Linked DNA regions of Homo sapiens: all the other regions are reported to be linked to region 5. Evidence: microRNA targets listed by miRTarBase, many of them from high-throughput screens and not tested one by one. Region 5 holds a microRNA gene; each other region holds the end of a gene's coding sequence. Distances are between the middles of the regions.
What was found. The annotated mature microRNA hsa-miR-608 reads AGGGGUGGUGUUGGGACAGCUCCGU and lies in region 5 at 3,901-3,925, opposite strand. An mRNA with a match to its seed (bases 2 to 7 or 8) in the 3' UTR can be bound and repressed. Matches are read on the target gene's strand: a 7mer-m8 pairs with bases 2 to 8, a 7mer-A1 pairs with bases 2 to 7 and ends in A, and an 8mer does both.

Region 1 (5,642 bases), 600 kb from region 5:
TCAGTGTCTCAGGGGTGGAGGCTAATGGGTTTATTTTTCCTCAGAGGGACAATCCTTCAGCTGGCAGTTGCTGTCTCAGCTCCCTCCCCACCAAGAAAGGATGTGGGTGTTGGCTCAGAACTGCCCCCTCTTTGCTTTCTTTCCTCTCCTTTCCCACAGGTGCAGCTGTATTTCTGTGCTCCACTTTCTCCTGGGCCTGGGCCTGGCGCATGCTGCCAGCCACCTGCTCAGTCCTCAAACCCCAGCTCACATATTCCAAACCTTTAGCTCCAAATCAGTAGATATCTGGGGCTGCCTAGACCTGGCTGAGGGCTTTCAGCACCTGGCCCCTTGTCCTAAGTGGAGTTTCACAGACCTGGGCACGTGGGCTGGGGCAGGGGCAGAGAGAGTCTGTGTCTCCCTACTCTTAAAGAGCTCCACAGGGCAAGCTCAGTGCCCACTCTCAGAAGCAGAGCCGGCACCTTCTCCCGTCTCTCCTCAGGCTTGCCTCCTGCACAGTGAGCTTTTTCTTCTCTCCTGTCCTAGCGAAGGGAAAGAACAGCAGCTCCTCAGGGTGGATTCCCCTGGGCTTGCAGCAGGCATCTGGAATGGGCATAAGCTGAGGGTGTGGGCCCGAGTCTGGGAAGGCCCTTGTACTGCTGTGGGAGAGGAGCTCCCCACGCACAGCCCCTCACCTGTCACCGCTCTCTTTCCCAGGTCCAGAAAGCAGCCCAGGCCTTTAACTCTGGGCTGCTGTGTGTGGCATGTGGTTCATACCGACGGGGAAAGGCGACCTGTGGTGATGTCGACGTGCTCATCACTCACCCAGATGGCCGGTCCCACCGGGGTATCTTCAGCCGCCTCCTTGACAGTCTTCGGCAGGAAGGTATAAGCTCCATCTCTGGGTGAGCAGGTTGACAGAGGGCAGCACAGGTCTGGGGGCCCCCTCAGAGGGAGAACCTCAGAAGTTCCAGTCCTGAGGCAGGAAGCAGGGGAACAGTGCTTTGCCAGCATCCCATCTCTCTATCGGGGCCGGAATCCTCTCCAGGGAGAGATGGAACAGCCCCGCCACACCTATGTGGAGGTGCTCAGTGAACCCTGCAGGCCAAGTATCTCATCTGATCTTTCTGTGACACTATGGGGGAGATGGGAATTACTATCCATGTTTTACAGAAAAGGAGAAGGGCCCAGAGAGGGTAGTGTCACCCAGCTAATACCTGGGCAAGCCCCAGCTTAGACATCAGGAGAGACCTGGGAGGATGGGACAGCCCAGGCCTGGTTCCCTGCCCTCCCAGCAGTCCCCTCTGTTGGGCCAGGGTTCCTCACAGATGACTTGGTGAGCCAAGAGGAGAATGGTCAGCAACAGAAGTACTTGGGGGTGTGCCGGCTCCCAGGGCCAGGGCGGCGGCACCGGCGCCTGGACATCATCGTGGTGCCCTATAGCGAGTTTGCCTGTGCCCTGCTCTACTTCACCGGCTCTGCACACTTCAACCGCTCCATGCGAGCCCTGGCCAAAACCAAGGGCATGAGTCTGTCAGAACATGCCCTCAGCACTGCTGTGGTCCGGAACACCCATGGCTGCAAGGTGGGGCCTGGCCGAGTGCTGCCCACTCCCACTGAGAAGGATGTCTTCAGGCTCTTAGGCCTCCCCTACCGAGAACCTGCTGAGCGGGACTGGTGACCCATGGCTGGGGGTGCTGAGGAGAGCCGAGTTGGACTGGCTACCCCTCCTGGCCACCCAGTACTCCCTCCAGCCTCAGCTGGCTGAACCTCGCCGCTCCAACCACCAGCTTCCTCAGCGAGCAGGGCCCAGGGCTCTGGGCCTGAAGCAAGAGCCAGCCCGGCTCCCAGTGTCTGCCCGGCTCCCAGTGTCTGCCCAGCCCTCTCCCAGACAGGAGCAGGCTGCCACCCCTTCTACCTCACCACTGCCCCTCGAAGAATTTTGCAAATGGCCCCTTGCCCCATTTTAAGCAGGAGCAGGTGGCTGGTTTGAAGCCCCAGGTATCCCCCTTCCCTGCTATGGGAAAGGCCAAGCTGCTGGGTGGGGACAGAAGCTGCAGGGGAGAGGGAAGCAGCCGTGCTGTCAACATCATCCGGCACCCTCTGGGGTAGGAGAACAGCCATTCCACATGTGTTCCCTCTATCCGTCCTGCTTCCTGGGCAGCTGGTGGTGCTGGGAATGGGGTGCCCCAGCCTTGGTGAGGACAGTGTTGGGAGGCCCAGGGGCCCAGTAAAGTGCATTTGACATTGAACCTGCCTGGTGTCTGAGCTGCTGCAGCCTCTGGCTACCTTGTTCCACCCAGGCAGGGACGACAGAGATGGGAACTGAAAAGAGGAGCCCAGAAAGGCTGTGTTAACTGCCCTCCAGACAGGACTGGCCTGAGTCAGCTCCTAAACTCACAGCAAGGACAGCAGTGGCTGTGACCAGGGAGAATGTTGGAGCCAGGCACCCAGAGCTCCTATCTAGTCATCAGCATCTTCTGCAGGCCCTACCTTAGACCAGGCTATCAGGGGACATGAGCAAAAGTGACAAGACTCAGGAAACCATTAGGAACAACTAAATGGTGACCGTGTACACAGGGATGGGCGGCCAGGGAAGGCTTCCCGGAGGAGGAGAGAGGCAGACTGGCAGGGAAATTGCCTCTGAGAGGAGTCAGCAGGCTCTGTTTGGGGACAATTAAGGAACAGCTTTAGAGAGGACACTGTGTGCTGGGAGTCAGGAGCAGGCTGGGCTGGCAGAGGACTGGAAGCAGAGCTTGGTTTGATAGAGCAGACAGGAGCAGGTCCCGCTGGGGAGTGCGGGATGTCTTCCTGAGGCTGTTTCACAGGGCAGGGAGACTTGGTGGGGGAGTGGGGTCATGGAAGGAGCTTCAGGCAGCCCAAGTATGAGGAGGAGTGGGCACAGAGTCAGAAGGAGACTGTATTGGAGGAGGAGCCTGGAGAGGCCCCATGCTGGGAGTTGGGTGGTGACGCGTGAGGGCAGCTTTGGCTCCACAGGGGGATCCCACCTTGAGTGTGCTGGGTGGGCTACATTTCTGTTGGTAACTTGCAGAGTCCCGGAGCCAGCCTTTGTCTGCCTGGTCTCGATCATGGGATCCTAGCAGCCTGGGAGTAGGCCCCCCAACTCAAGCTCATACCCCTGAAGTGTAAGTCAGGGGGTCTTCCCAGCACTGATCATGTTGGGAAAGGAATCAGAAGCCCACAGGACCTGGAGGGCCCTTTCGCAGCTCAGCACCAACCCAAGAGATGGCCAATCAAAAGCCCAGAAGCCTTCTAGAGGGGCGAGCCTCTCCCCTGAGAGTGTCTACTGCCAGGGACACATGGCTGCCAAGAGCCACAGTGGGGGCCTGGGTAGATAGGAGAGGGGCTGGGGAAAGCCTGGGCCCCCGGGTGTGAAGGCTTGCTTTTGGTCCCACTCTGGACTGGTCCCTCAGTGCCTGCTGCTGTCCCCAGCAAGAGTTGGAGTCAGCAGAAGTCCAAAGATGCGTGTCTGGGTCCAAATGTGGAAGTTGCTTCTCTCCTTTTGCCGCAGCCTGCTCCAGGCCCAAGGAACAGGACCTCCAGGGCTGGGGGTGGAGGGAACCAGTGTGCAGCAGGCCATAGAGTAGCTCGCCCAAGTTTTCCTACACACAGGGAGGTCCCAGAACTGCAGGGAGGGATGCCGCTTACTTCTTTGTCTGAAATCAGGGTCTGACCTCCATTCTTGACATCCCTCCCCATCTGCCTTAACTCCTTCCCCCAGGAGACTCAGAATTCAGAGACTGCCTTGAAACCATGCAGACTCTTGGTCCCACCTCCTGGCCAGGGCAACACAAAGTCGTGGGATAAAGAGGGAGCATGCCCCACCTCCAGTGACCCATCTGGGTGTCCCTTCAGCTGCCCAGTCTGACACAGAAGCCCAGGAGAAGAGCCACTGAGGCAGAGGAGCTAATGGAGGGATTTCTGAGTCTTGAGAAAGGCTGCCCAGTTTGGAGGTAAAATGAGGTGAAATGAGGTTCTCTGAGTCCAAGTAAGCAAGGAATATGAATATTGGGGGTTCCCAGGCACTTTAGCGCTGAACCAGGTTCTCGAACAGGCTTTCAGCCCAGTCTCCCATTCATCCTGAATGGAGAGAGACTCCATTTCAGGGCCCTGGTGGTAACTGGGGTCCTGTCCAGCAGCTGAGCACCCCGCACACCTACCACCCAGTCACCACCTGGCCTGGAGTAGGCAGAGAGACCCCACAAGCCTGCTCCCTGCTCCAGCCCAGTTCTTCATCACTCTGTCCCTGAGCCAGGGTTGTCCTTGGACAGGCCACGTGTGGCAGGCAGAATAATGGTCCACTGAAGATGTCCATGTCTTAATCCCTGGAACCTGTGAATATGTCACCTTAGTTGGCTAGAGGGACTTTGCAGTTGTGATGAAGCTTAAGCATTTTGAGATGAGGTGATTATGCTGAGTAATCCTGTGGGCCCAGTGTAAACATGAGTTCTTAAGAGCTACAGTCAGGGCCGGGTGTGGTGGCTGACGCCTGTAATCCCAACACTTTGCGAGGCCAAGGCGGGTTGATTGCTTGAGCCTGGGAGTTTGAGACCAGCCTGGTCAACATGGCAAAACCCCATCTCTACCAAAAAAAAAAAAAAAAAAATTCAAAAGTTAGCTAGGCATGGCCAGACCTAGTGGTGCCTATAATCCCAGCTACTTGGGAGGCTGAAGTGGGAGGATCACCTGAGCCTGGGAGGCAGAGGTGCAGAGGTTCCAATGAGCTGAGATTACACCACTGCACTCCAGCCTGAGTTGTAACAGAGTGAGACCCTGTCTCAAAAAAAAAAAAAAAAAAAAAAAAAGCTACAATCTACAATCAAAGAGAGACTTGACGAGGAAAGGTCAGAGAGATGCGAAGTTTCTGGCTTTGAAGATGGGGAAAGGTCTCCAGCCAAGTGTGAGCAGCCTCTAAGAGTCAGAGAAGCCAAGGAACAGCTTCTACTCTAGAGCCTCCAGAAGGATGGCAGCTCTGCTGATGTCTGGCCTTATCTCAGGGAGCCCTGTTGGATTTTGAGCTGGTGGAACTGTGAGATAATGACTGTGGTGTTTAAGCCAGTAAGTTGGTGTAATTTGTTAATGTGACTGCAGAAACCCAATAGACCGAGTGCGTGTTGGGCTCTCCCTGTACAAAGGCAGAGGGACAGCAAGTGTGAGCAGGCCCTGCTGTGAGGTAGAGGGCATCCTCTGAAGTGTGTGGGGAAGGGGGAGCCTCACATGAGCCCAGGGCTGCCACATGTTCAGTCTGAGCCTCCCTAATTTCAGTTTCTTCTTGACACTGTGCAAGATGCAAGTCCCCGCTGGGCTGCTCTGCCCCACCCCTACTGAGCTTGGAGCTTCATCTTTTCCCAGGGCCTGGGGTGGGGACCTCAGTCTTGACCTTAGACCTACACTAAAAGGGGAGCAAGACAGGCCCCGGCCTTTCCTCCTGGGTTCCAGCTGCTCACAAGGCAGACGTGGGCACCGGGAAAGGGGAGCGAGACAGGCCCTGGCCTTTCCTCCTGGGTTCCAGCTGCTCACAGGGCAGGTGTGGGCATGGGACAGGGGCTTCCCAGGCATCACCTGGAGTGGGCATGACAAGGTAGGCAAGTCTAGCTGTGTCCCATCCTACAGTTCCAATGGCTGGGAAAGGCAAACCCAGG
Region 2 (5,581 bases), not on the chromosome of region 5:
TTGTTTTTTGAGACAGAGTCTCACTCTGTCGCCCAGGCTAGAGTGCAGTGGCACAATCTCAGCTCACTGCAACCTCCACCTCCCAGGTTCAAGCGATTCTCCTGCCTCAGCCTCCTGAGTAGCTGGGATTACAGGCACCTGCCACCACACCCGGGTAATTTTTGTATTTTTAGTATAGAAAGGGTTTCACCATGTTGCCCAAGCTGGTCTCAAACTCCTGACCTCAAGTGATCTGCCCACCTCAGCCTCCCAAAATGCTGGGATCACAGGCATGAGCCACCGTCCCCGGCCACGGGAAGCTGAGTTCTAATTGTACTTTGGCTGCTTCTTAGCCTGATCATCTTAGTTTGTTAACATCTCTGTAAGATGGAGAGGAAGAGGATGATGATGATGATGGTGATAGCTAACATTTCTTGAATAGCACTTTACACATATTACCTCATTTAATTCCTACAGTATCTCTGAGGATATAGGCAGGATAACTATACCTGCCGTGCTTTATAAACCATGAAGTCCTGTCCAGACTGAGATGTGGATGTGCTGTCTGGATTGGGATGGAGGTGAAGAATGTCAGAAAAAAGTAAGAGAAATAAGGGGAAGGACATAGGATGAACAAGCAAATGGGTACCTGGAGGGGTGAGGAGTTCCCCTCCCACAAGCTCCCCACCCCCACTGCCAGCCTCGCCATGACCCGGAAACTGGATCAGCTGCTGGAGCAAGAATGGGAGCGCTAGAGTTTCCCCTGTACAGAGGCCAGAACCCAGCACTGAGGCCTAGGGCCTGTGCATCTTTAATCAAGCCATGAATTATAGAGCAGCCTACATCCCTGTTTCTTCCCTCTCCGGTTCTGATGTTTCTATTTCCCTTTTGCCATGCCTGTGTTTATCTCTCCAGACCTTTCCTCACCCTGCCTCTGCCCCTTCCTAGGGCTCTTTCGTGTACTTCCTGGGGGCTGGGCAAGACTCCAGGAAGGGGCTGTCCTGGCAGGAAGCCCAGACTGGCTGGCAGGCCACTGAGGGGTATATCCTTGTTGCATGCCTCTCCCCCTGGCTGGGCTGGCTGCCAGCTTCACCCTGAAGGTAGGCTGGTGAGGCTGGACCCCTTGGCCATTCCCAGCTAATGGAGAATGAGCCAAGCATTGGAGTTTCACACCCAGCCTGCGGCAGCTGGACCACATCTGGCTCTGGACCAGGGCATGAGAGCATGCATGTTGTAACAGGGTGGGGACTCCTGGTCCCTTGCCCTCCAGGAAATGGGGGGGGTCTCTTCCACATGAAGAGTCTTCTCCAAGAGCCATCTAGGGTGATCCCCATGTTTCTCCCCCAACAACAGTTTCCATGGAGAATGGACTGGGGCCAGCCCCAGGATCCCCAGAGAAACAGCCTGGCTCCCCATCCCCTCCCAGCATTCCGGAGACTGGTCAGGGTGTAACCAAGGGTGAAGGGGGGACTCCAGCCCCGGCTTCCTTGCCTGGGGGTAGCAAGGAAGAGGAGGAGAAAGCCAAGCGGCTGCTCTACTGTGCTCTGTGCAAGGTGGCTGTGAACTCCCTGTCCCAGCTTGAGGCACATAACAAAGGTATGGACTCCCCTGCCCCCACCCAGACTCTCCTGTCCTCAGGCCACCCCTGCCTCTACATCCTAATGCCCCTGGCTTCCAACATCCCTAGACCATCTAAGACCTATCAGCCTATCTGCCTGTCTCCTTCTCCAGCCATCTCCCCTGTTCCTTAGCCCTTTACTTCCTCAGCTCCTCCCTCCATCTTACTCCTTTACCTATGACTCTCTCCTGATCCACCTCTTTGGGAGGGTCCCAAGGAGCTTAGTTAGAAAGAACCCACACTGTGCCCACCCTCTTCCCCCTCATATTGTACCTGGGAATGTGCATTCTGAGGCCCAGTAGGCCTGGATAATTTTTCTTCCACCCCTTACCTCCTGCCCTCTCTGGGCTCCAGGTACTAAGCACAAGACAATTCTGGAGGCCCGAAGTGGGCTCGGGCCCATCAAAGCTTACCCTCGGCTGGGGCCTCCCACCCCGGGGGAACCAGAGGCTCCTGCCCAGGACCGAACTTTCCACTGTGAGATCTGCAATGTCAAGGTCAACTCGGAGGTCCAACTGAAACAGGTGGGTCTAAGGCCCTTCCCAGGAATTCTGGGACGCTCCACCCGCTAAGTGGGGAAGGGGAGCAAGGAGCTTGAGTAAAGGCCCTTCTTCAGAGTTTTCCCCAGGGGGCCAGATGGGAGGGGGCCGGTGCTTGGAGCTTGATTATACTCCCTCGCTGTTGCCCCTTTCCGGGAGCTCACAGCCCCCTATCCACTGGCCCCCGCAGCACATCTCCAGCCGGCGGCACCGAGACGGCGTGGCCGGGAAGCCCAACCCACTACTGAGCCGTCACAAGAAGTCTAGGGGCGCCGGGGAGCTGGCGGTGAGGCCTGGATGCTGGGAATTCAGCAGTGGGAGGGCGCGGGCGGGGAGGAGAGAGGGACGCGGGCTTTGCCCAGGGAGAGGTGGGGTTTGCAGGACCGCCGGGTGACTTCTCTTCCTCCGCCTTTCGCCCGCTTCAGGGCACGCTGACTTTCTCCAAGGAGCTGCCCAAGTCCCTGGCGGGCGGCCTGCTCCCCAGCCCCCTGGCGGTGGCTGCAGTGATGGCAGCGGCAGCAGGCTCGCCGCTGTCCCTGCGCCCGGCTCCAGCCGCACCTCTTCTCCAGGGACCGCCGATCACTCACCCTCTGCTTCACCCGGCCCCCGGACCCATCCGAACTGCGCACGGACCCATCCTCTTCTCCCCGTACTGACCTCAACCCTGAACCCCTCCCATTCAACTCCCCACCTCCAGCCGGGACCCAGGCGTCCGGGCTCCCAGCCCGCCCCTCCTCCCGGCACTCCCTAAATGATCTCTCCTTCCCCCCCCCCACCCCGAGATACGGGGTTCCAGGAAAGGGGAGGGGTAGCGGGGGAGGGGGGCTTCAGAAGGGGGGGAACACCCCAGATCTCAGGGAACCCCGCCCCCTGCCTTTCCCTCTCCCCTAGAAAAGGGGGGGCCGTCTCACCCCCGAGCCCCCTTGGAGACACCCCCCCTCCCAAAAGCCATGTCCATCCAGCCCTTCCCCCCAAACCTAGCACAAAACGGGGTTCACAAGCCATGGTCGGGGTCCGGGGGGGACAGAAATGGATTTTCTTGGCAATAAGCGGACTCTGGGACTCCGGCTCCCTACCCCAAACTGAAGCGCTTCCGTGAACACCCCCGTCCTCCGTAGGGGGAGGGGAGCAGGCGGGATCCTGGGTCCCTCATAAGCACTTTGGTTTTACCGCCTGCAACCTCACTGTGCCCGCCCCGCACCATGCCCTAGCCCCAGGTCTAGCCGGGCCCATTGCAGGGGGCAGCACTTGGGGGCATCTCCGGCACTTGGGTGGGACCAAGGAGATGCCACCATAGACCTTTCCCTCGCCTTCTTCCTCCCTAGTCCGGGTTCCATTCTTTTCACCAGCACCCATCGCCCAAGGGGTACCGAGGGGGGCAAGGGGTGTCCAGTCCAAGCCCACCCCCGCCTCGCCTTCCGCAAAACTGTGAGCAAAAAGCAATAGAAGCCTCGCCCCCGCCCTTCCCCTTCGCAGGATTCGCCGAGTCTGTAGCCTCCCCGATCCAAGTTCCTAGACCTCATGGCTGTCCCCTCCCACCAGTCACCTCCACTGCACAACTCGGGCGGGGGTGTGACACCTCTCCCCCACCCCCGACTCCGTGGTTTCCGTATCGTCAACCCTTCAGCCGCCGACCCGGGAGGGGTCTGGCCTACACTGGTCTTCCCCTTCCCATCAACTCTTTCTGCTTGACAATGTAGCAACCCAGGCCCCCCACCCACGGTCCTCCCCTTTTTCCTCTCCCTGACAATAAAGTCTGAATTTGTTCTGCCCTCCGCCCCTAGACTCAGACTCTGTCTTTGCCCGCTGTTTTGGGAGCAATTCTGTCGTTAAATGTATCTGTATGGGACCGGCACAGAAAGAGGAAAGGGAGCGAGAAGGAGGAGGGAAACGGAAATCGGGGGTGGGGGAGGCAAAATATGAGGCTTGTGCAGAGTGAGCAGAGGCTCCCCATCCCACCCACGCCCACTCTCGTCCAGCTCGTGTAAACTTGGCCTGGGGGATCATTTCTAGTCCAAGTCTGGGACTGCAGCTGCAGCTGTTGAGAATTTGCCACAACTCCACAAGGCGGCGCCAACGACCCGGAAAAGGAGTCTAAGCCCGAGGCTAAGCCGCTCCTGTAATGTGTTTCGAGATTCCACGCAGATGGGTCTAGACTCAGTCTCAGACAAAGAAAAGAATCCAGGCTTTTGTGTGTCTGGTGGGAAACCCACGCCAGCGAGACTCAAGGCACAGGAAGAAACGGGGGGCAGAGACTGGGGATCTGAGCTCTAGGCTCTGGCCCCACATAAATAGTGACCTTGAGTCAGTCCTTGCCCTCTCTGGACCTCAGTGTCACAGTCTTCAAAATAAGGAGACTTGAGTCTTTCAAAGGTTCATTAAGATCTCATGTATCCAAGACTGAAGAACTGAGACTGTGCCATTTACAGATATACTGGAATACCTTCTCAACTGGCCCCTAAATGGTCTGTGGAACAGGGAAACACTGTTCAGCTGTCTCTCACATGGTATGTGAGGAAAATGGTTTCTCCGTTATCTCCAAAATGTGGTTCAACCATACACTCCCAAGAGCAGCCAGTAATCCTGACCCCCTCTATCCCTACTGAGAGGCAGGAAGTTCAAACAAAAAAGCCCAAACCAAAACCCAGAATCTATGTGAGTTCCTCCCGACTTTCATCTCTGCTCACTTCCCCCACTCTACCCACTTCCCAGTCTTGCAGAAGAAAGGAGGAGGGAAGTTGGGATGATGTCTGTTAAACAGGAAAGAGAGGGGAATGGGGGACTCCTGGGTTTGTCAACTGTGAGGCTGAAAGGAGGGTGTTCACTGTGGGTTCAGAATTGGAACCCAATAAGGAGTGTTTTGGTGTTTGTTTGCATGTTTGTTTCCAGGTAAATCTAGCTTTAAAAGGGGTGGGAGGATTCAGAAGGATGCGGGACAAGAGAGGCCCTATAGAAGAGTGGGTAGAGAAAAGCAGGGGCTGGGTCACATGTGGGGAAGGAGATAGGGACTGGAAGAAATTGGGGTTAGAGAGTCTGGGATCCTAGCAGACCCCACAAGTACTTCAAGTCTGCTAGTTTAAAACTGAATTCATTATTTACCCCTTTCCCTAAGCCTGCTCCTCCTCCCACATTTCCTATCTTATTAAGAGCACCACCATCTGTCTGGAAAACAGAAAGTTATCCTAGTTCCTCCTTCTTCCTAACTCTTCATCCAATGAATCACTAAATAAGTCCTATTTGACCTCCTAACAACCTATGGATCCTTATCATTCCTCCATTCCCACAACCACTGCCCTAACCAGGACTGGCTCCATAATTTGTGGGACCCAGTGCAAAATGAAAAAGCAGAGCCCCTTATTCAAAAAGTATAGTATTAAGAATTTAAAAACAGTGATTGACGAGCATTTAACCAAGCACCAGGCCCTTCAAACTGCAAGGCCCTATG
Region 3 (5,599 bases), not on the chromosome of region 5:
TGAGATATAAACCTACCAGCTGGTCTACAGAGCCAGATTCATATAGAGTAGGGGACAGCCTCATGGCCAACAAGGGACAGAGAAGCAAATGCATGTTTACAGTAGCTATGACTGACGTTCACACGCCCCAGTCTGCTGTCCCAGTCAAGGGAAATGCTTTCTTGCAAAATTCATGCCTGGTCTCACAATCATACATATGCTCAAAGCGTGTGCAAAACCACAGGATTTATTGTGCATGCATAGTTCAGAATACAGGAACGTGTATGGGAGTGAGGGCCGGTCCCATCGAGTGGGGCCTGTACCCTGCAAGTGAGGCCCATATACCCTGAATGGTGTCTTGCTCACAGGTGGTGCCTGGGCCCCCCTATTTGATACTGAGACCCATATACTGTGAATGAGGCCAGTATCCCGAGTAAGTCCTGGTCCTACGCTGCAAGGCCAGTGCCCTTTGATTTAGGCCTATATAATCCTGAATTCCACCTGGCCCCTGGAAGGGGGAATTGTAACCCCCAGTGATGCCGGTACCCTCTGGAAGGAGGCCTCTATCCCCTGAATGAGGTCGGGTATCCTTGAGTGATTTCTGGCCCTCTGTGGTTTCGGCCTTGTTTTTTGCTGGTTAATGAAAGTGGTGCTTCCAGGCCCCAAGTCCTTGTCATCGGGACCTTTAAGAAAAGCGTCTCAGGCCACAGCGACGCAGACCCCAGCTCAAGGCTGCACCGTTGCCATGGAGACGGTTGGGCGGGGGACAGGGGAGGGTGTGCGGCTCCCTCTGCGCAGGCGCACGCGCGAGCAGCCGCGTCGCAGCGGAACTGCTGAGATTCAGGCCCAGGGTGCGCGCTCAGACGCGGCGCGAGCGCCAGGCAAGCTGCGGCTGCTACCTCCCACGCCTCTCCAGGTGCACTCGGCGCCGCCCCCCTGCACCTGGCTGCGGTGCCGAGTCACTCAGGCCTGTGTCAGGGAGAGAGGGAGGGAGCTGTCCTGGAAAGCAGACACGTAAGCCCCCCGCGGATCCTCAGACAGCTCTGGAGAGGGGTCCCGGGGGAAGGTCACTGCGTCCAGCCGGCCAGCAGGCAGCTAGAGCCCCCGAGCCCCGAGCCCCACTCCAGCCTTGCCACATTCACCGGAACCGGGACTCTAAGCCCTGCAAGTGGCTTTCTAGGGTTGCATTGACACCGTGCGCTGCAGCCCACCCCTATCTCGGGCTCCCTGCTGCCCCAAGATCAGCGCCAAGGGGGCTGCACCATGGCCATGAGCCTTTTGCAGGACTGGTGCCGGAGCCTGGACGTGGACGCGCACAGGGCCCTGCTGGTCACCGGCATCCCGGAGGGCCTGGAGCAGGCAGACGTCGAAGCCGTCCTGCAGCCGACCCTCCTGCCCCTGGGCACGTTCAGGTTGCGACACATGAAGGCTTTGATGAACGAGAAGGCCCAGGCCGCCCTGGTGGAGTTTGTGGAGGACGTCAATCACGCTGCCATTCCCAGGGAGATCCCAGGCAAGGATGGGGTCTGGAGGGTTCTGTGGAAGGACCGTGCGCAGGACACGAGGGTCCTGAGGCAGATGAGACGCCTGCTGCTGGATGACGGGCCCACGCAGGCCGCGGAGGCTGGGACCCCCGGGGAGGCACCCACCCCTCCCGCTTCGGAGACGCAGGCCCAGGATTCTGGGGAGGTAACAGGGCAGGCTGGCTCGCTTCTTGGGGCAGCCAGGAACCCAAGGAGGGGCCGTCGGGGTCGCAGAAACAGAACCAGACGCAACAGGTTGACCCAGAAGGGCAAGAAGAGAAGCCGAGGAGGACGGCCGTCTGCTCCCGCGAGGAGTGAGGCCGAGGACTCTTCCGACGAGAGCCTGGGCATCGTGATCGAGGAGATCGACCAGGGCGACCTGAGCGGAGAAGAGGACCAGAGCGCGCTGTACGCCACGCTGCAGGCCGCTGCCAGGGAGCTGGTTAGGCAGTGGGCGCCCTGCAACTCCGAGGGGGAAGAAGACGGTCCCCGCGAGTTCTTGGCTCTGGTCACCGTCACCGACAAATCGAAGAAAGAAGAGGCAGAGAAGGAGCCAGCTGGGGCCGAATCCATCCGCTTGAACACCAAAGAAGACAAAAATGGTGTCCCCGACTTAGTGGCCCTGCTGGCTGTGAGAGACACCCCGGACGAGGAGCCGGTGGACAGCGACACTTCGGAGAGCGACTCGCAGGAAAGTGGGGACCAAGAAACAGAGGAGTTGGATAATCCTGAGTTCGTGGCCATTGTGGCCTATACCGACCCGTCGGACCCCTGGGCCCGGGAGGAGATGTTGAAAATCGCTTCTGTTATCGAGTCGCTGGGCTGGAGCGACGAGAAAGACAAGCGAGACCCCCTCCGACAGGTCTTGTCCGTCATGTCCAAGGACACTAACGGGACCCGCGTGAAGGTGGAAGAGGCGGGCCGCGAGGTGGACGCCGTGGTCCTGCGCAAGGCCGGGGATGACGGGGACCTCCGGGAGTGCATTTCCACCTTGGCGCAGCCGGATCTCCCTCCCCAGGCGAAGAAGGCTGGGCGTGGCCTCTTCGGGGGCTGGAGCGAGCACCGTGAGGACGAAGGGGGTCTTCTGGAGCTGGTGGCGCTCCTGGCTGCCCAGGACATGGCGGAGGTGATGAAGGAGGAAAAAGAAAACGCCTGGGAAGGCGGGAAGTACAAATACCCCAAAGGCAAACTGGGGGAGGTATTGGCGCTCCTGGCCGCCCGGGAGAACATGGGGTCCAACGAGGGGTCGGAGGAGGCTTCGGACGAACAGTCCGAGGAGGAGTCGGAGGACACCGAGAGCGAGGCGTCGGAGCCGGAGGACAGGGCATCCAGGAAGCCCCGGGCCAAGAGGGCGCGCACGGCCCCCAGGGGCCTGACTCCGGCCGGCGCGCCTCCCACCGCTTCCGGGGCCCGCAAAACCCGCGCGGGCGGCCGAGGCCGAGGCCGGGGCGTCACTCCCGAGAAGAAAGCCGGGAGCCGGGGCTCGGCCCAGGACGACGCCGCAGGAAGCAGGAAGAAGAAGGGGAGCGCGGGCGCCGGGGCCCATGCCAGGGCAGGCGAGGCCAAGGGCCAGGCGCCCACTGGATCCAAGGCCGCGCGCGGGAAGAAGGCCCGTCGGGGCCGGAGGCTGCCCCCTAAATGCCGCTAGTGGCCCCCCAAGAAGCCGCCCAGGCTGCGAGCAGGCCCCGCAGGGCACCCGCCCGCCTGTGGCCCCCGCCCTCCCCTCCCCTCTTCCTGTCCTCCGCAGACGCAATCTCCTCGCTTCACAGCGCGCCCGGGCCGCGTTTTGCCAGCGTCACGTTCCCCTCTCGGGCCCTCGCAGGCCGGGGGCGCCAGCGATCCCGACGGAGGAAGCCCGGATGGGAGGAGGAAAGAGAAGTGGGCGCCCGAGGCAGCAGCGCAGGGCCGAGATGGGGACGCGCCAAGTGGACCAGGATTGGGGGCCCGGGTTGCCCCCGGAGGGGGTGTGTGTGTGGACGCCGGGCACCTGCAGAGGCGAGCAGGGCTCTTCGTGGCGCTCTCGGGGCCTGCGCCTGGCAGGTGCTGTAGGCCGCTGTCGCCCCTACCCCAGTCTGACTGGGCCCTGGGTCTGTGGTGGAGGCTCAGTCACCAGCCGCGCAGCGCGTGTCAGGGCGCAACTCTCAGCCAGGGGAGGCCCCAGCTCCCAGCCAGGGGAAGAGATGATTCCAGAAAGGAAAGTCTGAGAGATAGAAGGCGGTTGGGAAGGGGAGGAGGAGGAAAGGGGAGAGGAACGGTGGGAGAAGGGAAAGAGGAGGAGGAGGGGGAGGGGGGAGCAGAGGGAAGACACATGCCAGCCCTGCCTACTGGGGCGCCCCTGATAACAAAGGAACCAGCCCCAGGCCAAGGCCACCTGCCCCTGACCACAAGTTGAATTTGTCACTCAGACTGCAGTGTTTCCCAACATTCTAATTATTTGCAGAGGTGTTCAATTTGGGGTAATTCACTTAAAATCCAGTTTTGGTTCTTCTGGGCTGAGTGGGCCCTGGCCCCTCCCATAGGCTGTGGCTCCCCTGGGTGCCCCCTCTCCAGTGGAGCTGACCCACCGCTCAGCGCTGGCCTTGCAGCCCTTACTAAAAGACTTGAAAGTCCCTGGGTTCACCCCCTGAGTGAATTAAAGGCCAGAGGGGCCCCGAAGGGCACTGTGAGGGACAGAGGCTCACCTGGGCAGTGCAGAAGCCGGCCGCGTGTCCCTCCTTACAGGGGATGAAATGACCTGGGGAGGAAACCCCAGCCCTGCCCTGGAGGTTCCAGAGTAGGCGGGCCGGTGCTGTGAGGCTTCACAACCTGCTGTCCCAAGCACGCTTGAGTTGTATGTGAGTCTGTGCCGTGCCGTGCCGTATGCTTCAGCTCCTGCAACCCCGGCTGAGCTCGATTTTTACCTAAATATCAGTCTCCACGGGACCCCACCTTCATTCATGCCTTCTTGTCCCTGGGGCAATGTGTGTGCTTCCTCGTCCCAATTTCCATTCCCTGGCAGTGAGGAGCCCATCGTGCCAGGGGGCCCTGCCCCACTTGTCCCTGGGAAGGAATAGGAGGGTTTGGGTGTGACCTCACAGTCCAGACCAGACTGTCCCAGTCCTATGTCAGGGACACCCAGATGTAGAAGCTGACTGAGACCTGCTGCAGGGCGTGGGTGCTCCCCTCTGCTTGGAGGCTGTCCCTGGACAGTGACCCACCCACTGAGGACCAGGCTGGGTGTACCTTGAGCTGGGCACAGCAGCCTGTGGTGTTGCCTGTGGGTGGGGAGGGCCCCAGGTGTGCTTCTCCCGTAGCAGTCCTAGGCTTCTCTCCCTGTGCCCTGTGTCACCTGGATCCTCCAGTAAAGTGAAATTCAGCACTGTACTCTCTCTGTGCTCTGGGCAGTGGGGCAGGCGGGGTGTGGGAGCGTGGGCCACAGATGTCCACGGTCTTGACTGTGGTTTGCCCAGAATACCTGGGAACTGTCCTGTCACTGGTTTACATACACTGTCCTTTGCTGCTTCGGGATCCCTGCCTGGCTCTCCCTACCCCCCAGCATCATCTCACCCCTTGCAGATCTGAGCCAGCTTCCACTCCCACCCCTGATGCCTCCCCACTTCCAGCCTCAGCTCCGAAGCCCCTGGACACCCATGGAGACCCCGCCCAGCCAATCCCCACCCTAGCTTCCACCCAGATACACTCTGCCAGGCCACAGCTGCAGGCACTCTCCCCCCAGCCTCCACCCCTCACCTGTGCCCTGGACCTCAGACTCAGCTTTCCATCCTACCTGAGTTTTCTGCCTCCCTCCATCCTGTGTCCCCCCACCATACATGGCTGCCAGAGACGTCCTCTTAGAAGTCACACCTGGGGTCTGATTGCGTCCCTCGCCTCCCCAGATCCCCCAAGGTCTCCTTCCTGTGCCGTCATATCTGCAGTTCTTAGGACTGTCTAGACATGCTTTGTTCAACTAGGTAATCACACGGGGTAAATTGGATTTAAATGTAATTAAGATTAAATAAAAATACACATGCATGTCCTCAGTCTTCCCAGCCACGTCACAAGTGCTCAAGAGCCACACGTGGCCAGTGGCTACCGCATTGCACGGTGCTGGTGCAGGA
Region 4 (5,462 bases), not on the chromosome of region 5:
ACACATGGGGTGCAGCGAACCTCACCCATTTCACGTTACACTGACATCCTCCGGGTCCCTCCGGGGAATGGGTGAGGTTCAGAAGAGATGCCCAGATGAGGCACTGCAGGAACCCAGAGGGAGAAGTCGCGGCTGACAGAGATGAAAGCGGAGTGGGTGGGGAGACGGGGAGGGGATGAAGAGATGTGGGTGGCCTGGAGGATTCGGGAGCAGGGAGCAAGGCCCAGGAGCCTGGGGTGTCAGAAACGGCAGCTGGTTATGGTCGGGTTGTGTGGTGTGGTGGAGAGAACCCAAGAAAGCTTCTAAACCAGAGTGTGTTTGGAGGTTGGAGCAGAGGGCGAGGGCCTCCCGGTTTCAGGAAGCCACACAAGGGAGGACCGTGGGTTTGGGACCAGTCCTCTGGCATCTGTGTGGAGGTGGCCCAGCCACTGTGGAGGCCTGAGGAGTCATCAGGGGGCCCCTCTCAGTGCATCCAGGTGGGAGATGGTCATGGGTGGCAGGAGACAAGACACAGAAACCTGAAGGCAGAACCCCAGGCCTCGGGGGGTGACCGTGTGGACAGCAGATGCCAAGAGGGTGCCGGGCAGGGAAGCCGCAGTGGTCAGCCACCCTCCCCCACGCTGCTCTGACCTCTGCAGGTCCCAGCTCCAGAGGAGCATCTTCAGCGCCCTGGTGGTGGCCTGGTACTCCTCCGCGTGCCACGTGTCCAACACGCTGCGCCCACTCACCTACGGGGACAAGTCACTCTCGCCACATGAACTCAAGGCCCTTCGCTGGAAAGACAGCTGGGACATCTTGATCCGAAAACACTAGAACAAGAGTGTGGCAAAGAACACCCGTGCTGGGGTCGGGATGAGGTTGAAGGGTCTTGGTCAATGTACGTAATGAGCAGGGTGGGCCCCACGCTGGGAGGACACGGGCTGGGCTGAGCAGGGCCTCTAGTGGAACACATGGGGGTCTCATTGAAAAGCTCTCTGATGAGCACCTCCTTTTGTGCAAAGTTAATTTTTTCTCGACAATAAAGATATTCCGTGTCTTTACCCCTGAACTAAGACACAGGGAGTATTTCAGAGGCCAGCGTAGGAGTCATTGACAACAAAAAGCCGAGAACCCAGGGCCAGCAGTGGAGCCTCAGCAGACCAGGGCCTGGTCCTTGCTAACTGCTGCAGGGTGGAGTTTGATCTGGCAGACCCGATCCTCCTTCATGAACACCCAGCAACCTGAGCAAGTCCCGGCCCTGCCCTCAGCGAGCCCGGCAGGCGTCCTGGGACAGCTCAGTGTTGGAGGGCCACCTGAACCACGAGCCAGGGCTGGGGCTTGCATGTCATTGTCTATGACAGCGTCAAGACTGGCCCTTGGCACCGTGCTGTGTGGAAACCCTCCCCTCTGAGACTCCACTGAGACGTGGCTGAGTGAAATCTTCCTCGTCAGTGGTCAAGGTGTGTCATCCATACAGCTCCATGCCTTTGTCTTTTTTAAATGTAATTAAAAAAGGAACCAACTGGCGTTTGTAGTTGGTGTTTGTTATTTATTGATTCTCCCTCCAAAGGGGCCTAAGCTCGACAAAACCGTTACAGTTGTCAGAACCCAGCCACAGGGCTCAGCCCCCTTCCCCCACGTCACGTCTGCATCACTACTGTGGGTGAGCCTGGACGGACGGGGGCTGGGGCTGCCCATGGCAGCGGCAAGGGATGCTTTCCAGAGACAGCCACCACGCAGGAGGGAGGATCACCCCAGGCAACCCAGACACGGGTGTTCACATGTGAGGCTGTGAGCTCCACATAGCACAAAGGAGGCTTGCTGACTTTGGGCGGCCATGTCTGCTGGGACCTGGGTGATCCAGTGCGTGCCACAGCCAGAAGCACCATTCCCTGCATATGGCCACTAGCCACCCTGGGGTGGGACAGCCTGTCTAGACAGACAGCACCTTGGGGGCTCCCCTGAGGGTCAGTGAGGGCCTGACCCCAGGCAGGACTGCGTGGACGCTGTTCTCCAGCCGGGACAGACCTGGCCTCCGCTGCCTTCTGCCCTACTGCATGGGCTCCCAGCCTGGCCCCGCACAAGCCTGGGTGTGATGCTGGGTGCTTCCAGGGCATCCGCCTCGCTTCTCTGCCTTTAAGGCACAAGCAAGGGGGGAAAACATCCCTCAGTGGCTCCCCATATCCGTGTAGGCCACGCTGGACTGCAAACCACTGGGTCATGAAATTAGGTTTGTAGGCCACAACCAGCCTTGTGTTATGAAACAGAAAACAGAAAACATGAGGACATGTAACATGTAAAAAAGGAAAGTACTTGTTCACAAAACTTTTGAGTTATGTGTGTGAGTGTGTAAGAACCAGATCAGACTGGAAAAAACTCTCTCCCACTGTGGGTTCACTGTCAACAAAACATCAGGCCAGCCAGTGTCTAGGCTGTCTCCTCAATTTCCCCAATAATGTGCCTCACATTCCTCACAGAAGCCTCCCAGGCTTCCTGCACATTCTGTGGCATTTCTCAGTGACCTAGAGGGATCTTTAAACCGCAACGAGCCTAAGTGGCTGAAAACCTCAGGAACGCCTGTCAGTGTCCCAGCAAGTTGAGTCTGAGTGACACATCTGAGTTTCCACTCCTGAGTGAGGAAGGCCTCGCTGCTAACACTCCCCTGGGGTGCGCCGAGAGGAAGCAGTGGGTGTGGGTGGGCGTCCCCAGGCTCAGTCCCTGAACACACATGCCGGGCGGGAGACCTGCCCTGAGGCTCGGCAGCCCCTCAGTGGGGTCTGCTGCTGGACTCCAAATGTGACCGTTTGCCAGAGGTCAGCATCCCAGGGTGGTCCCCTGGCTCAGAAAAGGTCCGCTTGTAGCTCCGCCCATTGGACCCTCCTCGGTGCCATTTGCAGATGTCACCATTCAGAATGTCCTGGATGTGCTGCACGATCAGGTTGATGGCAACTGCGCCAAGAGACAGACAAGCAGCGGGTTAGCCGCATCCATCCTCCGTGGAGACCGCCCCTCCCCGCAGCACTCGGCCAGGAGTGAGCGCCCAACCTCTGCCCTGAGGCACAGCCTGCGGCGAGGGGCATCGAGTCAAATCTCAGCAGACAGAAACATGCATCAGGACACAGCAAAATAAGACTTCTTAGCTTGGTCTTCCAGGAATTTATGTTAGAGTCTGCTTAAAGTACTTTCTGCTAACAGATTTGAATATACATATATATATGTTTTAAGAAACAGGTTCTTACTTTACTGCCTAGGCTGGAGTGCAGTGGCCCAATCACAGCTCACTGCAGCCTCAACCTCCCAGGCTCAAGCAATCCTCCCACCTCAGCCTCCTGAGTAGCTGGGACCAGAGGCACATGCCACCATGCCCAAATAATTTTATTTTTTGTAGAGATGGGGTTTTGCTATGTTCCCCAGGCTGTTGAACTCCTGGGCTCCAGTGATCCCCCTGCCTCAGCCTCCCAAAGTGCTGGGATTACCAGTGTGAGGCACCGCGCCCAGCTACATACATTTTTAAGCATATTTTAACCCTGTGCCGCAGATCAACACTGGCAGGCCGCGTGCGCAGGGGAGTGCTCAGTAACTGCACACTGGTGGAACTGTCCCTGCCTCAAGCTCTGGGAGGGGCGGGGGGACAGCCCAGCAGGCCAGCTTCTTACCCATATTGTCCACTCCTCGCGGGATGATCACATCGGCATACTTCTTTGTCTGTAAGGCACAAGGGGGGGTGTTCCTGTGAGGACTTTTCCTTCAAAGGTGATTTTAAGATGCTCAGAAACAGATGCAACAGCAGGAGGGGCGGCCCTGGGGTGCTCAGAGGTGCTGGTGTCATCGGCAAATGGGGGACACAGACTCAGTCATCAGCCAGGTGTGAGAGGCCATGATCCAAGAAGTGAGGCAGAAAGTGCAGCTGAGGCAGCCAAAAGAAAGTGCCTCTTCCAGTGTCCCCATTCCATCACAGAAGACAGCCCCCTTCCAGTGTTCCCACTCCATTACAGGAGACAGCTGGCTACGCTAACGACTCAATTCACTGGGCCAAGCTAAGTGTGGCACTTCTACAAAGTGTGACATTGTTCCTCTGGAATCATGAAGCTTCTGCAAATACCCTGGCACAGCAACAGGACAGCCGCCGCCGTGCATAATTACTGCAGGCAGAGACGCTGATGGTAACTTACTCCCTCATCCAACCACTCATTGGCTCAATGCTGACTCTCATTCCCTGTCAGATGCTCTGCTGCTGAGGAAGGACAAGGATGGAGATATATCAGGAAATGCAGGGCTGCTGGGGAGGGTCCGCAGCCAGATGGTGGGGGTTGGGGGGTGGCTTTAGGGAAGGGGAAGCAGCCTGGAGAACATGGCTGAATCAGACAAAGCTGAGGGAAGAGGGAGGGCAGGGTCTGGGCCGAAGGACGGAACTTGGAACGGTGCGTGCTGCTGGCGTGTGGATTTGGGTCAAGAAGGCGGCAGAAGAGACAAGCTGCAAGAGGCAGACAGGGACCAAGTCCTGGGGACAGCTGTGTCTGCAGTTGGTGGGACCCCATCTCATGAAAGCACGAGCGCAAGGGCGAGGGCTGCTTTCTATTCTAGTCTGATAGTCTGACGGGCTGGAGGAGTCCGGGAGAGCTGACAGGGGTCTTAACCGCCAGCAGGGATGGGCCTGAATACAGTTGGGAAATACCTACGGGGTCCAGGCAGAGGACTGCACAAGCCACTCAACATGAAGGTGAAGGAAAAGGAGGCTCAAGAACGGCTCTGGGTGGGGCTGGGGCCGGGTGCGGTGGCTCACGCCGGTGATCCCAGCACTTTGGGAGGCTGAGGTGGGTGGACTGCTTGAGGCCAGGAGTTTGAGACCAGCCCAGCCAACATGGCAAAACCCCGTCTGTGCAAAAAAAAAAAAAAAAGGAAAAATTAGCCAGGCGTGGTGGTGCGTGCCTGTAGTCTCTGGCTACTCAGGAGCCTGAGGTGGGAGGATCACTTGAGAGTGGAAGGTGGAGGCTGCAGTGAAGCAAGATCTCACCACTGCACTTGGGCCTGGGTGGCAGAGGGAGACCCTGTCTCAAAAAACAAGCAAGCAAACAAACCAACCAAAAACATCTCTGGGGCCTGGGCCCAGAACATAGCAGGTGACAGCACTTCCTCTACTCAGGTCGCTGAGGCAGATTTGATATCCAGAGTTTTACTGCGAATCACCTACTTTTTGCCAAATATCTTTCTGTGAATGAGAGACTAAAACAAGTTAACTTTACTTTTAAAATTATATTTTAGAAATTTCAGACAGCATGAATGCAAAAAAAAACAAAAGTTTTCTTTATATAGCAGCCAATAGGCCAGGCATAGTGGCTCACACCTGTAATCTCAGCACTTTGGGAAGCTGAGGTGGGAGGACCACTAGATCCCAGGAGATGGAGACCAGCCTGGGCAACACAGGGAGACCCCATCTCTACAAAAAATTTAAAAATTAACCGAGCATGGTGGTGCACGCCTGT
Region 5 (5,642 bases):
TAGTACACCTTGTCATCATCACCCACTGCACTGGCCTTGCTCTCCCGCACGAGGACGGAGAACACAAACTCCGCATCTGTGGGTCAGGCAGTTTGAGAGGCTTTTGAGACAGGCTGGGGATTCCTTTCCCTCACTCTGAGGCTGACCCCTCACTTGACAACACACAGGAATGGAATGGACAGGCTCACCTGGGGATTTGGGGGTGGGGTGGTCAGCTGGCCAAGGGAGTAAAAATGAAGAAATAGTCCCCTACCCCCCATCATCCTGTGCCTCATCCTCCTAACCATTGAGCCAATGCATTGGTGTCTCCTCAGTTCTCAGGGAGTGTGGGTGGCGGCTCCGGCGGATGTCAGGAATGCTCCGGAATTCATACCTAGTGGCTGTGTAGAGGCCTCCATCTGGCGTGGGGATATTCCAGGCATGAGAGACATGTCATATTCAACAGGGCACATGACATATACATGGTGGCAGGTCCTAGAGATGAGATCCACATCCTAAAAATACCATGTCTGTGATAGGGAAGAAGGCCTGCTCACCAATGATGAGGCCTGTGAAGCCACGGGCTGGGTCATAAGGACACTTCTCCTTCCCCTCCTCGAAGCTGGTTGGCAAGGTGAAGGCCTCAGCATCCTAGGGAACAAGGAACCAGCAGTAAGTGGTTCCGAAGACAGGCAGGGACAGTGGCTCAAAGTCAGATCAGTCTGGGGTCAGGGATCAGCGATCAGGGATAGGGGCAGGTTGTATGGCAGATGCACCTGACAGCAATAACTTAAGCATCCCCTGAGAATGACCTTATGGCCTCAAAACAATGTATGTTTGGAGTTCCAAATCTGCAAGTGGCCAACCTAGAGATTCACTCCTTATCTATGAAGAACATCTGAGCCCCTAGCCCATCCTGTGGAACACATGCTGTCCAGGGGATCAAGGCCCTTTGTTTTGGGTTAAATGAAGTTTGCCAGGTGGAGGTGATTAGGGGGAGGATGCTAAGTGAAAATGCTATAAAAACTGCATGGTTTTTACAAAGGGGAATGGTTCTCCAGTGCAGCCCGCCGCCACTGGAGTGCCCTGTATGGAAGTCCCCTTAATAAACCATCCGTCTCCTTCACTGGCTCTGAGTCTCTTCTTTGGCATCTTGAACATGATCCCATCCCTAATGAAGTCAACAGAGATCTGGCACAACACAGGTATACTCACAATGGCTGCACAGAGGGGCTGGAAGGCGTGAGTCCCACATGCATAGAGGTGGGTAGAATTGAGCCGCTGCAGGAACCGCACATGGTTAAAGCACTCCGTCTGTGGGATGAGGTGGAGAGGGCTGTGAGCCCCCTGCCTGACTAGAAGCCTCCTCCATTAGTCTAGCTTTGTAGTTTGGCTCTTGCCCCCACCCACAGGACAAACGGTTCTTTCCAAGATACCTGTGATCCTTCTCACTGCTCCAGAATATTTCCTGGAACTCACTGTCCTTGGCCTCCCAGTAACATGACCCTATTTCTCTCCTCTGTCCCTCAGATTACCTGACACCATTCTGCCAATATCTCCTGTGTCTCTTGCAGTTCCCTCCACCTCTGGTTCAAGAGCTCCCAGGGATTCCACCATCCTGAGGTGCTTCTCCTCTCCCATCCAGCTCCTTCTCAGCACCTCTTTCTATTCTTGGAACTCCTGCCCTCCTCGCTGGGGTGATACAACCAAATCTATCCCTAGATGCCAGCTTGCTCTCCACCCGATATCCCAGGGATGTTTCAAACTCACCTTGTCAGAAGCCAAGTTCATCCCCTCCTCCATAACCTACATCTTTCCTAAACCTGTTTATCCAGTCTTTCCCACCTCACTTCATCCAACCTACGACTCAACCTAGAAGCCAGGGATCATCCTTGCTGCTTCCTACTTCCTCACCCCCACATTCAGTCCCTCTCCACAATTAATTCATTGTCCTAAAAGTCTCTTGACTTGGTCCACTTTGACTCCACCACCAGCACCCAGTCCAAATGACCACCATGACCTCTTCCTTAGACATCTGCAGTTGCTACCTGATAGCTCCTCCCAACCTTCTCTTTTATAAAAACGACTTTATAAAGCTATTTATTCAGTCAATGAATACATGTACATAGTATAAAACTTAGAAAGTACAAAGGGGTATGTTATAAACAGGGAGTCTCCCATTTATCCCTGTCTCCCAGGTTGCCTGCCAAGAAGACTGCTGTTACTATTGTCTGAAGTTTCCTTCCAGAGATATTTTACCAAACAACACACTTTTGCTACTCTCCAACCACTTTCCAAGGGATATTCTAAAAATGTAAACCTAGCCAGGTGTGGTGGCTCACACCTGTAATCCCAGCACTTTGGGAGGCTGAGGTGGGAGGATCACTGGAGCCCAGGAGTCCAAGACCAGCCTGGACAATATAGCAAGACCTCATCTCTATGTGGTGGCATGCACCTGTAGTCCTAGCTACTTGGGAGGCTTAGGCAAGAGAATTGTTTGAGCCCAGGAGGTCGAGGCTGCAGTGAACCACTGCACTCCAGCCTGGGCAACAGAGTGAGACCATGTCTGAAAAAAAGTCAAGTGGATCACACCACTGTATCGGCTCATCAGTGACCTGAATATAGAGTCCCACATGCTCCTAGCCCTGTGTGATGGGACTCTGCCCATTCCTCTGGTCTCACTCACCCTACTCCAGCCACACTGGTCTTCTCTGCCTGTCAAATGCCCTCAGCTGCCAGCCTCTTGACTCCTTTGCCACGTTAATGATTCCTCCTCTTGCCTGTTACCCAGGGTTTAAATCCATACAGGCCTCTTTGTGTCTCCTCCTGCTCCCTCACCTGGTACAAGCCACTACCATCTGTCCCCCGTCTCCATAAGCCTGCTCAGGCCCCTTCCTCTGACCCAAATGATGCCCCCAGCCTCCTCACTGCTTTTCCTGCCTCCAGACTCACCCTATTTTCATCCATCCAGTGCCTGGGGCCAGATAAATATTCCTAAAGTGATGTTTCCCCAAGATGTTTATTTATTTTTTTAATTTTATTTTTTTTGAGACGGAGTCTTGCTCTGCCGCTAGGTTGGAGTGCAGTGCATGATCTCAGCTCACTGCAACCTCCGCCTCCCGGGTTCAAGAGATTCTCCTGCCTCAGCCTCCCGAGTAGCTGGGACTACTACTCTCAACACCATGGTGATGTGACTGGGACTACTACTCGCATGGATGTGCATCACCATGCCGGGCTAATTTTTGTATTTTTAGTAGACACAGGGTTTCACCATGTTGGCCAGGCTGGTCTCGATCTCTTGACCTCATGATCCACCCGCCTCGGCCTCCCAAGGTGCTGGGATTACAGGCCTGAGCCACCGTGCCCAGCGGATGTTTACATTTTTTAAAGGGGGGTAGGGAGGAATTCTCTGGTCAAATAACTTTGGAAACCACAGGTGAAACCTATCTTTACTGGGCTTACTTCCTAGAGCCTGAAGGATGTTGCTGTGCATTGTGGGACTGGGCATGTAGTGTTTCCCAAACTCATTTGACATTTAAACCCCTCCTTTGAAAATTAATGTTCCTCAGAACATGCTTTGGGAACTGTTCTATAAAGCCTTGCTATCCAAAGTGTGGTCTGGGGACCAGCAGCATCAACTTCACTTGGGAGCTTGTTAGAATTGCAGACTCTTGGGCCCTTCCCCAGACCTACTAAGTTTAGCATCTGCATTTATAATATACCTGGGTGATACATTAAAGTTAGAGCCTCTAAAGTATCAAATTCTGAGGGTGTTCACTGTCACAGAATAAAACCCAAACTCCCAGCTGGGCATCTGTGGCCTTCCATGACCTGGTTCCATCTGCCTCCCCAGCCCCATTTTCTACCTGTGCTGCACCAAGAGGCAGCCTTTGATGGAAGCTCTTGGAGATGCCTTTTTAAACGGAGCTGTCCCAACACCACCCCTGGCCCACCTTGGCCCAGTGGATCTTGGGAATTTTTTTTTAATTATTTTTTATTAGAGATAGAGTCTCATTATATTGTCCAGGCTGGCCTCGAACTCCTGGGCTCAAGTGATCCTCCTGCCTTGGCCTCCCAAAGTGTTGAGATTACAAGTGTGACCCACCATGCCCAGCCCAGGGCCGTTTATTTTGTAAAAGCTCTCCAGATGGAGCCATTACCTAGCCAGACATGGGACCCCTGGAGACACCCTATTCTTTAGCTGGAAAGGGCTGATGCTTCATTAATGCCTGTCCATGGAATACTGGGTATTTGACCTATTCCTTGACCAAAGACTCATTTTTCTCATCTGCAAAATGCAGGATAATACTATTTCATAGGGTTATTTTAGAATTAACTGAGATAATAGCTAAATCATCACTTGCTGTAGATAGTTGCTGACTTAACAATGGTTCAATTTATTATGATGGTTTTATTGGTAAGTAACCCATCGTAAGTAAGCATCTGTAGAGGTTACTTACTGTTTTTTGTTGGTTTGTTTTTTTGAGACAGGGTTTTGCTCTGTCATCCAGGCTGGAATGTGTGGCTTAATTATAGCTCACGCAGCCTCAACCTCCCAGGCCCAAGTGATACTCCCACTCAGCTTCCCAAGTAGCTGGGACTACAGGTGCACGCCAGCATACTTGGCTAATTTTTGTATTTTTTTTGTAGACAGATCTCGCTGTGTTGCCAAGGCTGATCTTGAACTCCTGGACTCAAGTTGTCCTCCTACCCTCAGCCTCCCAAAGTGTTGGGATTACAGATGTGAGCCACCGCGTTCAGCCTACTTATTGCCATTTTGATTATTTGGGATCCCAGAGGAGATGAAGATGCCACTGCGGGACAAACTAGTAGGCCACCAGATGGTTGAATTAGAAGTACTGTGCCCAGATGCCGGGGGCAATGGCTTACATCTGTAATCCCAGCACTTTGGGAGGCTAAGGTAGGGGGACTGCTTGAGGCCAGGAGTTCAAGACCAGCCTGGGCAACATAGCAAGACCCTGTTTCTACAAAAAATAAAACACTTAGCTGGGCGTGGCATGTGCCCGTGGTCCTAGCTACTCAGGAGGCTGAAGTGGAAGGATCCCCTGAGCCCAGGAGTTTAAGGCCACAGGGAGCTATGATCATGTCACTGTACTCCAACCTGGATGACAGAGTGAGATCCGACCTCAAAAAAAGAAAAAAAAAAAAATGCTGTGCCCATGGCTTGCCACTCTGGCAATACTTACAATGTTTACTGTGGTTGCTGAGATTGACTGGCAGGTCTGTACCTACCCATCTGTGTCCCCAACAATCCTGGCATCCCTGATTGAGGAAGAAGGGGAGGAAAGGAGCTGGGGACAGGGCAGACCACATACCTGGTTGTTTTTCCCTTTTTGATGACATTTGCTTTGCATCTCTGGGGAGGCTTCCCAGTGGATCTAGTGGAGGCAAAGGGAATAGGCTGATGCACTGACCCCAATACCTATTACTCATAGGACCAGGCAATAGGACCCCACAGAGTTGGGGAAATTGGGGTGGGGATCAATTTCAGGAGGAACACTGAATGCAAGGAACACCTGGGCTGGGAAGGGCAGTGCTGTCTGACCAGGGGGCTATGGAAGGCTGGCAGGGTTTTAAGGAAGTTGAGGTCCCAGGGAGCTGGATAAGCATAGAGACCCTCTGGGTGGTCCAGGTTCCAGGGC

Region 1: the mRNA of POLL is a reported target of hsa-miR-608. Seed matches in the 3' UTR shown: 7mer-m8 at 1,885-1,891.
Region 2: miRTarBase lists ZNF385A as a target of hsa-miR-608. Seed matches in the 3' UTR shown: 7mer-m8 at 2,909-2,915, 7mer-A1 at 2,979-2,985, 7mer-m8 at 3,537-3,543 and 7mer-m8 at 3,723-3,729.
Region 3: the mRNA of PNMA8B is a reported target of hsa-miR-608. Seed matches in the 3' UTR shown: 7mer-m8 at 5,078-5,084 and 7mer-m8 at 5,221-5,227.
Region 4: the mRNA of UCK1 is a reported target of hsa-miR-608. Seed matches in the 3' UTR shown: 7mer-A1 at 2,643-2,649 and 8mer at 1,895-1,902.

Annotation. Positions count from the first base shown.
Region 1 is chr10:101,575,471-101,581,112 of GRCh38, reverse strand. It overlaps POLL (DNA polymerase lambda), which reads left to right. Exons shown (of 9, transcript NM_001174084.2): 8 at 697-865; 9 at 1,296-2,231. The coding sequence ends at 1,660. Among named protein-coding and RNA genes, the nearest start is that of POLL, 10 kb to the left of the region's middle.
Region 2 is chr12:54,367,467-54,373,047 of GRCh38, reverse strand. It overlaps ZNF385A (zinc finger protein 385A), which reads left to right. Exons shown (of 7, transcript NM_015481.3): 4 at 1,333-1,575; 5 at 1,952-2,121; 6 at 2,327-2,422; 7 at 2,562-3,912. The coding sequence ends at 2,792. The region is part of intron 1 of GPR84-AS1 (GPR84, ZNF385A, ITGA5 and GTSF1 antisense RNA 1); the gene reads right to left. Among named protein-coding and RNA genes, the nearest start is that of GPR84, 5.8 kb to the right of the region's middle.
Region 3 is chr19:46,491,109-46,496,707 of GRCh38, reverse strand. It overlaps PNMA8B (PNMA family member 8B), which reads left to right and starts at 841. Exons shown (of 1, transcript NM_020709.3): 1 at 841-5,517. The coding sequence starts at 1,243. The coding sequence ends at 3,150.
Region 4 is chr9:131,522,294-131,527,755 of GRCh38, forward strand. UCK1 (uridine-cytidine kinase 1) reads right to left here. Exons shown (of 7, transcript NM_031432.5): 6 at 3,636-3,684; 7 at 1,508-2,928. The coding sequence ends at 2,747. POMT1 (protein O-mannosyltransferase 1) reads left to right here. Exons shown (of 20, transcript NM_001077365.2): 20 at 639-1,506. The coding sequence ends at 813. Among named protein-coding and RNA genes, the nearest start is that of UCK1, 6.2 kb to the right of the region's middle.
Region 5 is chr10:100,973,283-100,978,924 of GRCh38, reverse strand. MIR608 (microRNA 608) reads right to left here and starts at 3,940; the gene lies at 3,841-3,940. It overlaps SEMA4G (semaphorin 4G), which reads right to left. Exons shown (of 15, transcript NM_017893.4): 4 at 5,316-5,378; 5 at 1,195-1,293; 6 at 537-630; 7 at 285-398; 8 at 1-76. It also overlaps a transcript of MRPL43 not described here.